3 linked regions of the Homo sapiens genome follow. The protein of the gene in region 3 purifies or fractionates together with the protein of the main gene of each other region. This does not show direct contact. Each region holds a gene or a part of one and is shown on either strand. Other genes may lie near its edges. The genes, in order: TF, ITGAV and EDIL3.

Region 1 (3,655 bases), on a different chromosome or scaffold from region 3:
TACTCAATGCTCTTCCTTCCTGTCCTGGGTCCATAAAACTGCATGACCCTTTTGCTGAGGGATTGGGCACTTTCTCTGGGTTTAGCTTCTTGGTGATACTATGTACTGAATGATCAAAAGCTTGATTATTATTTCCATTTTTGCTCATCTCTGGTATAATTGTCTACTCCAACACATGGGCAGCTCATCTCTCTTTCTCTCTCAGCTCCATTTTACAAGTGAGAAATATGAGGCACAGAAAGGTTAAGTCACTTCCCTGGGCCACATAGCCAGTAAGTCATGGAGCTGGGATTTCAGTGCAGACATTCCGGGTTTATTTCTTATCATTACACTGTTACTTCAGGTTATGTTCCTTTTTGACTTTGTGCTTCTGTAAGCCCTCATCTTTACATCAACAGGTCCCTTGAAATATTATAGCTGCCTTCTTACTAGATCTATAATTTATTTTCTTTTTATGTAAATCCTTAAAGTGAGCCCAACCATCTTTTATTTAGACACTTAAACACATAGTTTTACTCCTTTTTTGTTTTAAATGTCTTTAATCAAAATGATTTTTCCAGAAGCCCTTGCCAGTTCTCTATGAAGATTTCTTATTGATCAAATTACAAAGCAGGCCAGGTATAGTGGCTCATACCTTGTACTTCCAGCACTTTGGGAAGCCTAGGCAAGTGGATCACCTGAGGTTAGGAGTTCGAGACCAGCCTAGCCAATATGGTGAAACACTGTCTCTACCAAAACAAACAAACAAAAATTAGCTGGGCTTGGTGGCACATGCCTGTAATACCAGCCACTTGGGAAGCTGAGGCAGGAGAATCGCTTGAACCTGGGATGCAGAGGTTGCAGTGAGCCGAGATTGTACCACTGCACTCTAGCCTAGGTGACAGAGCAAGACTCTCAAAAAAAAAAAAAAAAATTACAAAGCAAAAGCTATAGTTCCATGAACTTTGTTGTGTTACAATCAAGTAATAAGACAATAGTATTTCTAAATGAAATAAAATATGTTGTAAGACAAACTATATCAGCAGTCTCGCTCTTGTCCCTCAGGCTTGAGTGCAATGGCTCAATCTCGGCTCACTGTAACCTCTGCCTCCAGGGTTCAAACGATTCTCCTGCCTCTGCCTCCCAAGTAGCTGGGATTAAGGCGCCTGCCATCACACCCGGCTAATTTTTGTATTTTTTTTAGTAGAGATGGGGTTTCACCATGTTGGCCAGGCTGGTCTCAAACTCCTGACCTCAGGTGATCCACCCGCCTCGGCCTCCCAAAGTGCTGGGATTACAGGCGTGAGCCACCGCACCCAGCCAATTTTAACCATTTTCAAGTGTACATTTTAGTGGCATTAAGTACATGCATTCACGTTGTTTTATAGCCATCACATCTATCCATCTCCAGAAACTGAAACTCTTTACACATTAAACAATTACCTCCTATTTCTCCCCCACTCCAGCCCCTGGTAGTCATTATGCTACTTTCTGTTTCTATAAATTTGACTATTCTAGATACTTCATAAAAGTGGAACTTTGGGAGGCCGAGACGGGCGGATCACGAGGTCAGGAGATCGAGACCATACTGGCTAACACGGTGAAACCCCGTCTCTACTAAAAATACAAAAATTAGCCGGGCATGGTGGCGCGCGCCTGTAGTCCCAGCTACACGGGAGGCTGAGGCAGGAGAATGGCGTGAACCCGGGAGGCGGAGCTTGCAGTGAGTCGAGATCGCGCCACTGCACTCCAGCCTGGGCGACAGAGCGAAACTCCGTCTCAAAAAAAAAAAAAAAAAAAAAGTGGAATCTTACAATATTTGTCCTTTTGTATCTAGCTTGCTTCACTTATGTTTTCAAGGTTCATCTCAGTGTAGCATATATCAGAGTTTCATTTATTTTTAAGGCTAAAAATATTTCATCATTTGTGTTTACCACATTTTATTTATCTATTCACTCATCAATGGATATTTGGGTTGTAAAACATATTTTTAATATACCACAATACAAAACAAAATTAACAGACATCATGGGCCTTTCTGTTCCACAACAACTAGACCTTATATATGAAACACACTTCGTGGTTTTGTTTAATCTGCAAACACCTTCCCTTCCCCAGTCCTCACATTGTTGAATAAAAATGAAGCAAACAGGGTGCAGCACACCAACATGGCACATGTGTACATATGTAACAAACCTGCATGTTGTGCACTTGTACCCTAGAACTTAAAGTATAATAAAATATATATATATTTTTTAAAAAATGAAGCAAACAAACGAGAGCTTTGCCCATTGCAGTGGGGTTGGGAGAGTGGTCAGGAACCTGGTCTTTCTTTGCCAAGACACCAAGAAATCACTGGTGCCTCGGGGGCTCAGGGAGCCAAAGAGCTAAGGCCTAAAACACAGCGTCCAGCCCTAGAGCTGCAGGGTTCCCAGGGGAACCTGCGCCAGCTGGGAGGGACAGGATTATAATCAAGCAAGCTCTCACAAGTCAAAATAACCAAACCCAGAAGAGGGAAAGCTACAGAGAGAAGGCTGGAGGGAAGCCAAGGGGAAGCCAGCAGAAAGACACGGAAAACCCCAGCGCGGGGATTGAGGGAAGCCAGGCTGCATCTGGATGTTTCTTCCACCTTTTCCCTTCGGCTAACCTACTGCTTGCTTTGTGCTGAGAACTGTAGAATTTCCCACACTTGACACATCTGTCCAAACCTCTGCACTAAGAGACCTGACCAGACTCTGGCATGGCTCCTAGCAGAACAAATCTGTGTCCCTAGGATGGCCCGGTTCCCCTTAAAGTGCTTGCCTGAGAAAACTCAGTGCTGCCAGGAAAATGTACCTGTTTCTTCTACTCAACACACAACTGATGATAGGCCCCTGACCTCCCTTTCCAAGAGAATTTACTAAAAAGGACTTAAAACTGTGAATATGTATCTCTTGAAACTCACAAGCATCTCTCTCAAGGACTGAGAGCCATTCCTTTGCAACACAATCATCAGGATGGATAGAGTGTCTGTCTCGCAGTCTCTGCGGGAGAATAGAGTCCTAATCGAGAGAACTGCCAGCTATCAGACACAGCTGGCCTCCTCACATTTACACTGACCAGCCCTTTCTACCTTTTTACTTCTCTGACTCTACAGAGCCCTGCGTTCTCCCCTCCCTCATTCTCCCTTTAAAATGCTCACATCACCACTGCACAAATCAGAATGGAGCCTAGCTCTTTCCCCCACTGTCAGCAGTTACTGAATGAAACCTATTGTCACTGCCTAAACTAATATCTGGCTGTGCTTATCTTTGACAGCTCCCATCACCCTGGCCTCCCACTAGCAACTTAAATAAGCCCACTCTGCTCTGCCTCAGGCCCTTTGCATATGCTCTTGTTTGCTGCCTGGTGTATTTTACACTGGAGCCCACCCAGGCTCAGTCCTTCATTACATCTCTCTCAGAGAGATGGTCTCTGACCACCCAGGACAAAGCAGGTTTTTCTGTGAGTCCCTGTCAGAACACTCTCCTTTTTCCCTCCATTGTACATCCCCACATTTTGGAATTAGTAGTTTACTTATTCGTGTGTTTTTCTGCTCTCCTGACTAGCCCATGAGCTCCCTGAGGGTAAGGACCAATGTGTTTAATTCACCACTGCAGCCCCATTGCCCAGCACAGGATCTGACATGTACAGATGG
Region 2 (3,655 bases), on a different chromosome or scaffold from region 3:
AATAATAAATAGGAATGTGTAATAATTAGGACACAGTAATAAATTAGGACAGAGAGGTACTATTAATATTATATTTATTAGAATTTTATTACAAGTTGTCTGTAATATATAGCTAGCAGACTCAGTGAATTGGCAAATAGTATTTTGTTTTAATAAGATTAAAATCAGCAGATGTCACCCTGGATAAGTACGTTAGAATGAATTTTTTCACAGATCTCAGAATTGTCGTTGTTAGAATGGAGAAAAGAATAATGTTTTATTCAGAAGAAATAATGAATTTTCCTCTGTTCTTCAATTCAGGAAATGTTTATTGAATTTCATATGTTCTTGGTACCGCTGAAGCCCAGATGATAAAGTAGTGACCTGGACAGAGAAAGTGCTTCTGTGCTGTAGATCCAGTCTCTGTGACTGAACAGATGGGAACAGGACTGAAAATGTTAGCTGTTACACATTTCTTTCTAAAACAGCAGAAATGATAAGAGATTACTGTGTCCATATTGTGGAGACAACACTTGATAAACCAGCTATCCTTTCTTGGCATGGAGGGCAGGCTGATTTTTGTGTAGTCATCTAGATTTCTTGTCTGCTTAATAACAAGGTTGTGAACAAAGGTGAACTCATCCATTCAGGTTGTTTCCTAAAGATGTTTAAATTACTAGTTAAAAAATATCAATTGAACCAATTATTCTGATTATAAAAGTAACAGTATTGTTTCAGTAAATTTTTCATGTTTTAATGGATTAGTTGGGTGATAGCCTTTGATTTTATTATTCCGTGTATTTAACATTGCTTTCTAGTGATTTAAGACAAGTCCTGTTTTCTTAAATTTTTATTAGCAGAGACTACTTTTAAGTACTGGCTTAAACAGAAATAATTTTAAGTTAAGAATATCCATTTTCAAATTGAGTATGATCAAGGAGAGTTATGTACGGCTAATAATTAGAAGTACTAATATCTAATATTGTTTTCCTTCATGCAGGTACCATACATTATCTGTATCATAAAGTTTCCATTTGAAGGTTATTTATTTTATATATACACCCTTTTTTAGGTCAGCTTATTTCGGATCAAGTGGCAGAAATCGTATCTAAATACGACCCCAATGTTTACAGCATCAAGTATAATAACCAATTAGCAACTCGGACTGCACAAGCTATTTTTGATGACAGCTATTTGGGTAGGTAAAACCAAAATTTACTCATTTTTGGAACTGTGGTACATATATCTTATATCTGAGTATGGTCTTTTAAGTAGAAAAATATTTTATGTGAAATAGATTAGGATTTTTTGAAACATACAGAATATACAATTTCAAATTGTTAATGAGTACTTTGGTTATGTTACGTTTCAGTAATTGAAATTGAAGACAGTGATTATTTGTGCAGTGATAATAATAATAGCTAGCCTTTAAGATATGCTTACTGTGTTCTGGGCATTGTTCAAGGTGACTTGGTTTGTATTCACTCATTTAATCCTCACAAGTCAAGCATACTGTATTATTCTCATTTTGTAGGTGAAAACACTGAGGCACTGAGACGCAAAATAACTTGCCCAAAGTCACTCGCTTGTAACTTGCTGTTCAGAGATTCAAATGGAGACAGTCTAACTCCTGAAGTTTTCTTCATGATGTTAAATAAAAGTTTTGGTCTTTAGGACTTATTAACATGTGTTCTCTCTTTCAATTTCTTTATGATATATTAAAACAAGTCATATATGACAGAAATAGTACTTGCTGATTGAGAGAATTTATTTGTTCTTTATGATGAGTTGTAAATTTGGTGTTTTTAACAGACTCCTTTGTAAAGTTAATAAGACAATTGTAGTTTTGTAATAAAAATAGACTATTTGAGTATTTAACTCAGTTTCATTTAAAATTCATATGTCATATATATATGAATCTGTTATGACTAGGGGACAAAATATTGCATAAGTAAAGGAGTTTCTTGAAAATATTTTCAAGGAATGCTTACTCAGCAAGCCTGCTGAAGATAACGTCCTTGTCCTGATGGTTCTCCCCTTTGGTTTCCTGTTTAGGTTATTCTGTGGCTGTCGGAGATTTCAATGGTGATGGCATAGATGGTATGAAGTACTTGAACTATATCTAATCTTTAAAAAAATTAGATTAAGTATTTGAAACATGTGGCATTGAAAATTTTAAGCAGTTTGAGTGGCTGGGTGCTGTGGCTGCAGCCTGTAATCTCAGCACTTTGGGAGGCTGAGGCGGGTGGATCCCTTGAGCCCTGGAGTTCAAGAACAGTCTGGACAACATGGCAAAACCCTGCCTCTAGAAAAAACACAAAAATTAGCCGGGCGCGGTGATGCACACCAGTGTCTAGCTTCTCAGGAGGCTGAGGTGGGAGGATCTCCAGAGCCCAGGGAGGTTGAGGCTGCTGTGAGTTGTGATTGCGCCACTGCACTCCCGCCCGGGCGACAGAGCCGAGACCCTGTCTCAAAAAAAAAAAAAAAAAAGGAAAAGAAAATAAAATTTTAAGCAATTTTAAACCATTGTTATGGAATATAACAGAAGAAATGAGGAAGATGTTAGCACACTGGTGAGAGTCCAGGCTAGGTCTGTGCTGAACTTCCTCTAGTGGCTGCTGAAATTGAGACAGCTACACTTGGCTTCAGTGCCTTTCCTTTCTGCTTCTTTTTAGCCCCCAACACTGTTAGTGATTTCCTTAGCATTTTCCTCCTTGTCTTCAGCAAATTCATTCCTCTGGGAGGAAGAATTAGTGTCTTCTTTCTTTAGGCATCCTTTGTTACCTTCTGGGCCATCTCTGTACGGTTATTACCCCATCCTCTCATTGTCCATCCATCTTCCTTCAGAGCTCCGTTTAGGAATCACAGTCTTTACCTGATTTTGATCACATTTTTGTGCCACAGCCACTTCTACCCCACTTCAGTTTGCTCTGTATTATTTTTCATTACTGTACTACTAAACTAAATGTAGTTTTTCTTCATTCTTAGGTTACTTTATCTTGTCTATTCTTGTTTAACAATATTACAAATGACTTGAGGGCTTATTTGCATATGTTTGAGAGCCCTCCAGAATTTGTATTTTGTAAATTTTGATTTTATAGTTTAAAAATGCTGGGCTATTTATTACGGAGTACCAATTTTTCTAAATTGATTGTTTGTTTTGAACTGAAGTAGTAAAACTTAAAGCTTGCTGACATAGTCACTTCTGGTCTGCAACTTCCAGTGTTGTCCTAAAAAATGAATAATTTGTTTGTTTGTTTGTTTCAGACTTTGTTTCAGGAGTTCCAAGAGCAGCAAGGACTTTGGGAATGGTAGGACAGTTAAAAGGTATTTTTTAAAAAATCTCTAAGTTATCTTCTATTTTACCAGATTTCACATACTTCTATTTTTCCTTCACAGGTTTATATTTATGATGGGAAGAACATGTCCTCCTTATACAATTTTACTGGCGAGCAGGTATGCTTCCAAAATATGATCGTCCTCTCCCACTATAAAAGCAGTATGTACTCATTGGAGAAAATTTGCGAAATAAAACTGTAAAAATGAACTATAATCTCATCAAATAGATAATTCTTCCAACTCTTACCATTTTGGTCAAACTATTATCATTTCTCTTTTGAGCGTGTGTGTGTGTGTGTGTGTGTGTGTGTGTGTGTGTGTGTAGTATATAAACAAA
Region 3 (3,655 bases):
TGTTGACTAGCAAAGATACAATCATTAGTAACCCAAGTCTTCAAAATTCACACCAAACTTTATGAAGTCATTCAGAAAGAGAAAGTCAATCCTAAAATTAAAATTGGCAACTATGATAAATACCTTCAAAAGGATGTAGATATAATGGAGATGTTTAAAAGTTTAGTTTCATTAATTGTAAAATTAGCATGTTATATTTACTCAATATAGTGAAGACTAGGTGATTCTTACATGTATTCTACTTATGGTACTGTACTGGTTTTAGTGTGAATTTACATAGAATAAATTTACTTCACTTTCATGTCATCGACATGAATGACACAAAAGCTACTTCATAATACTACTTTACAATAGTTTTCAACATTTCCATATGGTGCGACCCCTTTGCTCTCATCAATTTTGGGTGTCATGAGAACAATAGGTATCCCGTTGGACATGATGTATTGCGAAGAGCATATAAAGCAGAGGGAAAATGAAAAAGCAAGAGAAACTCATTTCAATGCTTTTTCTAAAAGGTAACAAATATAATTTTAATCAACTTCCTTGGAAAATATTTTTAAAACAGGTATCAATAGAAAAAATTACAAAACATCATATGAAGCTATAAATAATTTTGAAAAACTATATCATCATAAAGCGTAAGTAATAATCTTAAAAATACACTCTTAAGAAGGTATGTAATTTGCAAAGGAAAATGGCTAGATATCTGATGGGACAGTAAACCTTGAAAGAAACTGGCTAAAGAGTAAGTGTGTGTATATTTCTGAACCTAAGTAATTATTTGTCACGACTTTAAAATTTAGCCAGTTACAAATATTTTAAAATCCTAACTTTAAAGTTATCTAAAAAAGGCAATATGGAGGAAATAGTAATTTTGTTTTTGAAAGATGTTGAAAACTGATCACCATTTCAGAGGCTTCAAATTCATAATTTCATAATAAGAACAAGAAGTAGAAAGCATATGGGCAAGGAACAAATATGTGGCCAGCCAGTCCCCTTAGACGAACTAATTTTGTTCTTATTAAAAATGCCAATACAATTGACTTTCTCTTTAAATTCTTCACTATGATTGAAGACCACTCCATATATACATCATTAAGAAATGCTGTTAACACATGGACAGACAAGACAGTAACAGTCTAGTGGCTTTTGTTATGCAGCACAAATATTAAAGGAAAAAAATAGCAGTGTTGCGTAGGATCTTAACATTTCATACACATACCATCCTTTCTTTTCCAATACACTTAATTTAAAACTCCAATAATTCTGTCTAAGCCTTATAAAATAAATACTTGTAAAGCTTATAAATTAGATGTTGAAGACTTTTATGGAGGCAGTGTGAGCTTTAATTTGAGAGACATGTCAATGAAACCTCCAGTATCAATAACAAATTGTTATGATAATTGCTTATTTTTTCAGGACCTTTGAAGCAAAATAAATAGAAATCAGTTTTCATCTTGAAAATGGTTTACTACTTTGTCATTAGTAAACACTTTGCTTCTCACAAATAACTCCACCTGTGCCTTCCTGGGAAACTACCACCAGTTTCAAATCTCAATAAGATGTTAGTTTCACAGGAAATGTGGAGCTGAACAAAGAAATGATGAGTATGCTTGGCCAAACTATGCAGCACTATATTAATATTTCTTTGCTAAATTTTTTATAAAATAAACAAATAAGCCGATTTTTTAAAGTAAATATAAGGATATGTAATTACCATCTAAATGAAGATTTAAATTTAAAGAGACATATATATTTTTTGTTCTTTTGTGCAAACTGAGAGTATGGGATTCTTTATGAAGCAATTATTTGGAAATTAAATAGTTATGGCTTCCTTCAAAAATAAAACTGCAGATTTAATTAACGAATATTAAATACAGATCAATCTACTGATAGGCAGTCATGTTCTACATATATGAGTAAACATGACACTTCTTTTAGTCAACTAATAGGAAATTCAATTAGAAAAAAATTGAATTATTCAGGTAATATACAATATTAAGAATGTAGAATAGAACTAAAAGAAAAAGAAGTCACATAATCTCTTATTAGAAATAATGAAAGTAAAATGAGAATTATAATATCAGTACTGCATGTTACATATTCTTCTTTAAAATTTTGTAATAAACATTGACAGTGTTTGGTAGGCACAGGGAAACAGGATAACGTAGAGTCATTACAGAAGAAAAAAACTTATTGCTAACATTGCAGTATTCCTTTTATCAGAATTAGGTGAGTATTGATTGTAAAAGCTCTATCAACTCTTGCTCTTATTTGATGACTTTGAGACTTTTTTACTCTTGCTATAAAAAGAAGGCTACTTTCTTTCCCTAATATATTTCTACCAATGCGAATAATTCAGGAAACAATGAGAGAAAAGTAATTCACACTTAATGTGTTGTTACTTAAGAGATTTGACGGATAAAATAAAATCAAATTAAATCATTGAAAAGGCAGGCTTAGACCCCCTTAAAAACACCGTTAGTTGCCTACCATAATTTGAGCACTTTTTCATGAAAAAAAAAAAAAAACCATTCAGTTTCCTACAGATTTTGCACAGTTCATTCCATGGAGATACTTTTAGGGAAATAGGGAAGAGGGTTGTGAAATGTAGCCTCCCCTCATTCCTCCTCTGTGCAGCCCAGCAGCTCTGACCGCAATGTGATCCTCCCGTACCAGGACCAAGGAAGGATTCTTATGTGTCGTGCATAGATGGGAGGGTCGATGACATTTTTTCTGTGAGTGTCATTGTCAAAATTTCCCTGGAAAACCTAATAAAGAAGAGCAGAAAAATGTCAGTCACACAGCCTTCTTTCTTTGAAATTATTTTTATGTTCCTGTTTGGAACATTTTCCCCAAACATGATATTTGATAACTATTCATTTTCTTTTCTTCAAAATATATTGCAGCTTCTTTTTAATAATAATTATTTTAAATTAAATGGTCAATTAATGTTTAAAGAGTTAAACCTTTATTGTTTAATGCAGACATTCATAGGTCTATCATTTTCCTCTACTTGTTTCTCTCAATTAAAAAAAATACAACAGGTATTCATTTTTTGCTTATGTCACAGGCTGACGTTAGTCATGTAGCTTGCTGAAGATGCTCTCTTCCACGGGGTGACTCAGAGATCCAAGCTGCTTGCAAAGTACAGCTATCATCTGGAGCAGGCGGCCTCCACATTCACAAGGGGCAAGGGGAGGGAGAGTTAGCAGACTGTGCAGAGTGTTTAAGAGAACAAGCATGGAAGCAGCTTATATCACTTCTGTATATATCTGTTTCACCTTACCTAATTATATGACTCCAGCCTAACAGCAAAGGAGGCTGGGCACTGGAGAGAAGCACAAGGCTATCTGGTGAGCACTAACGGCCTCTATCACAGTGCCTTTTGCCCACTTCTTCTCACATAGAGAATAAAACTAGCCCATCTCCAAATGAGACAACACAATCAATGCTGTTTTTGAACTGTTTTTCTCTTCTTTTTTGGCTTCATCTATTAATTCCTGGATCCATACAATACTATTGGGATGAATATGACTTATAATATCCTGACCCTTTGCATTGCACGTCTATTCTTCTTTCTTCTTTTGTAAAAATGCTTTTTTTTTTTTTTTTTTGGAGCTTTACTATTACTATGGCCACTTGCTCTTCCCCA

The links.
Region 1: the proteins of EDIL3 (region 3) and TF purify together in Homo sapiens (affinity purification with mass spectrometry; 2 studies listed by BioGRID and IntAct, with this or other methods). This does not show direct contact.
Region 2: the proteins of EDIL3 (region 3) and ITGAV purify together in Homo sapiens (co-immunoprecipitation; 2 studies listed by BioGRID and IntAct, with this or other methods). This does not show direct contact.

What each region holds. Positions count from the first base shown.
Region 1 is NC_000003.12:133,749,356-133,753,010, reverse strand, and holds part of TF (serotransferrin isoform 1 precursor), read right to left. Parts: intron 1-3,655. UniProt on the Homo sapiens protein: Transferrins are iron binding transport proteins which can bind two Fe(3+) ions in association with the binding of an anion, usually bicarbonate.
Region 2 is NC_000002.12:186,635,031-186,638,685, forward strand, and holds part of ITGAV (integrin alpha-V isoform 1 preproprotein), read left to right. Parts: intron 1-1,051; coding exon 1,052-1,177; intron 1,178-2,034; coding exon 2,035-2,079; intron 2,080-3,246; coding exon 3,247-3,290; intron 3,291-3,378; coding exon 3,379-3,435; intron 3,436-3,655.
Region 3 is NC_000005.10:83,940,798-83,944,452, forward strand, and holds part of EDIL3 (EGF-like repeat and discoidin I-like domain-containing protein 3 isoform 1 precursor), read right to left. Parts: intron 2,772-3,655; coding exon 2,622-2,771; 3' UTR 1-2,621. UniProt on the Homo sapiens protein: Promotes adhesion of endothelial cells through interaction with the alpha-v/beta-3 integrin receptor. Inhibits formation of vascular-like structures. May be involved in regulation of vascular morphogenesis of remodeling in embryonic development.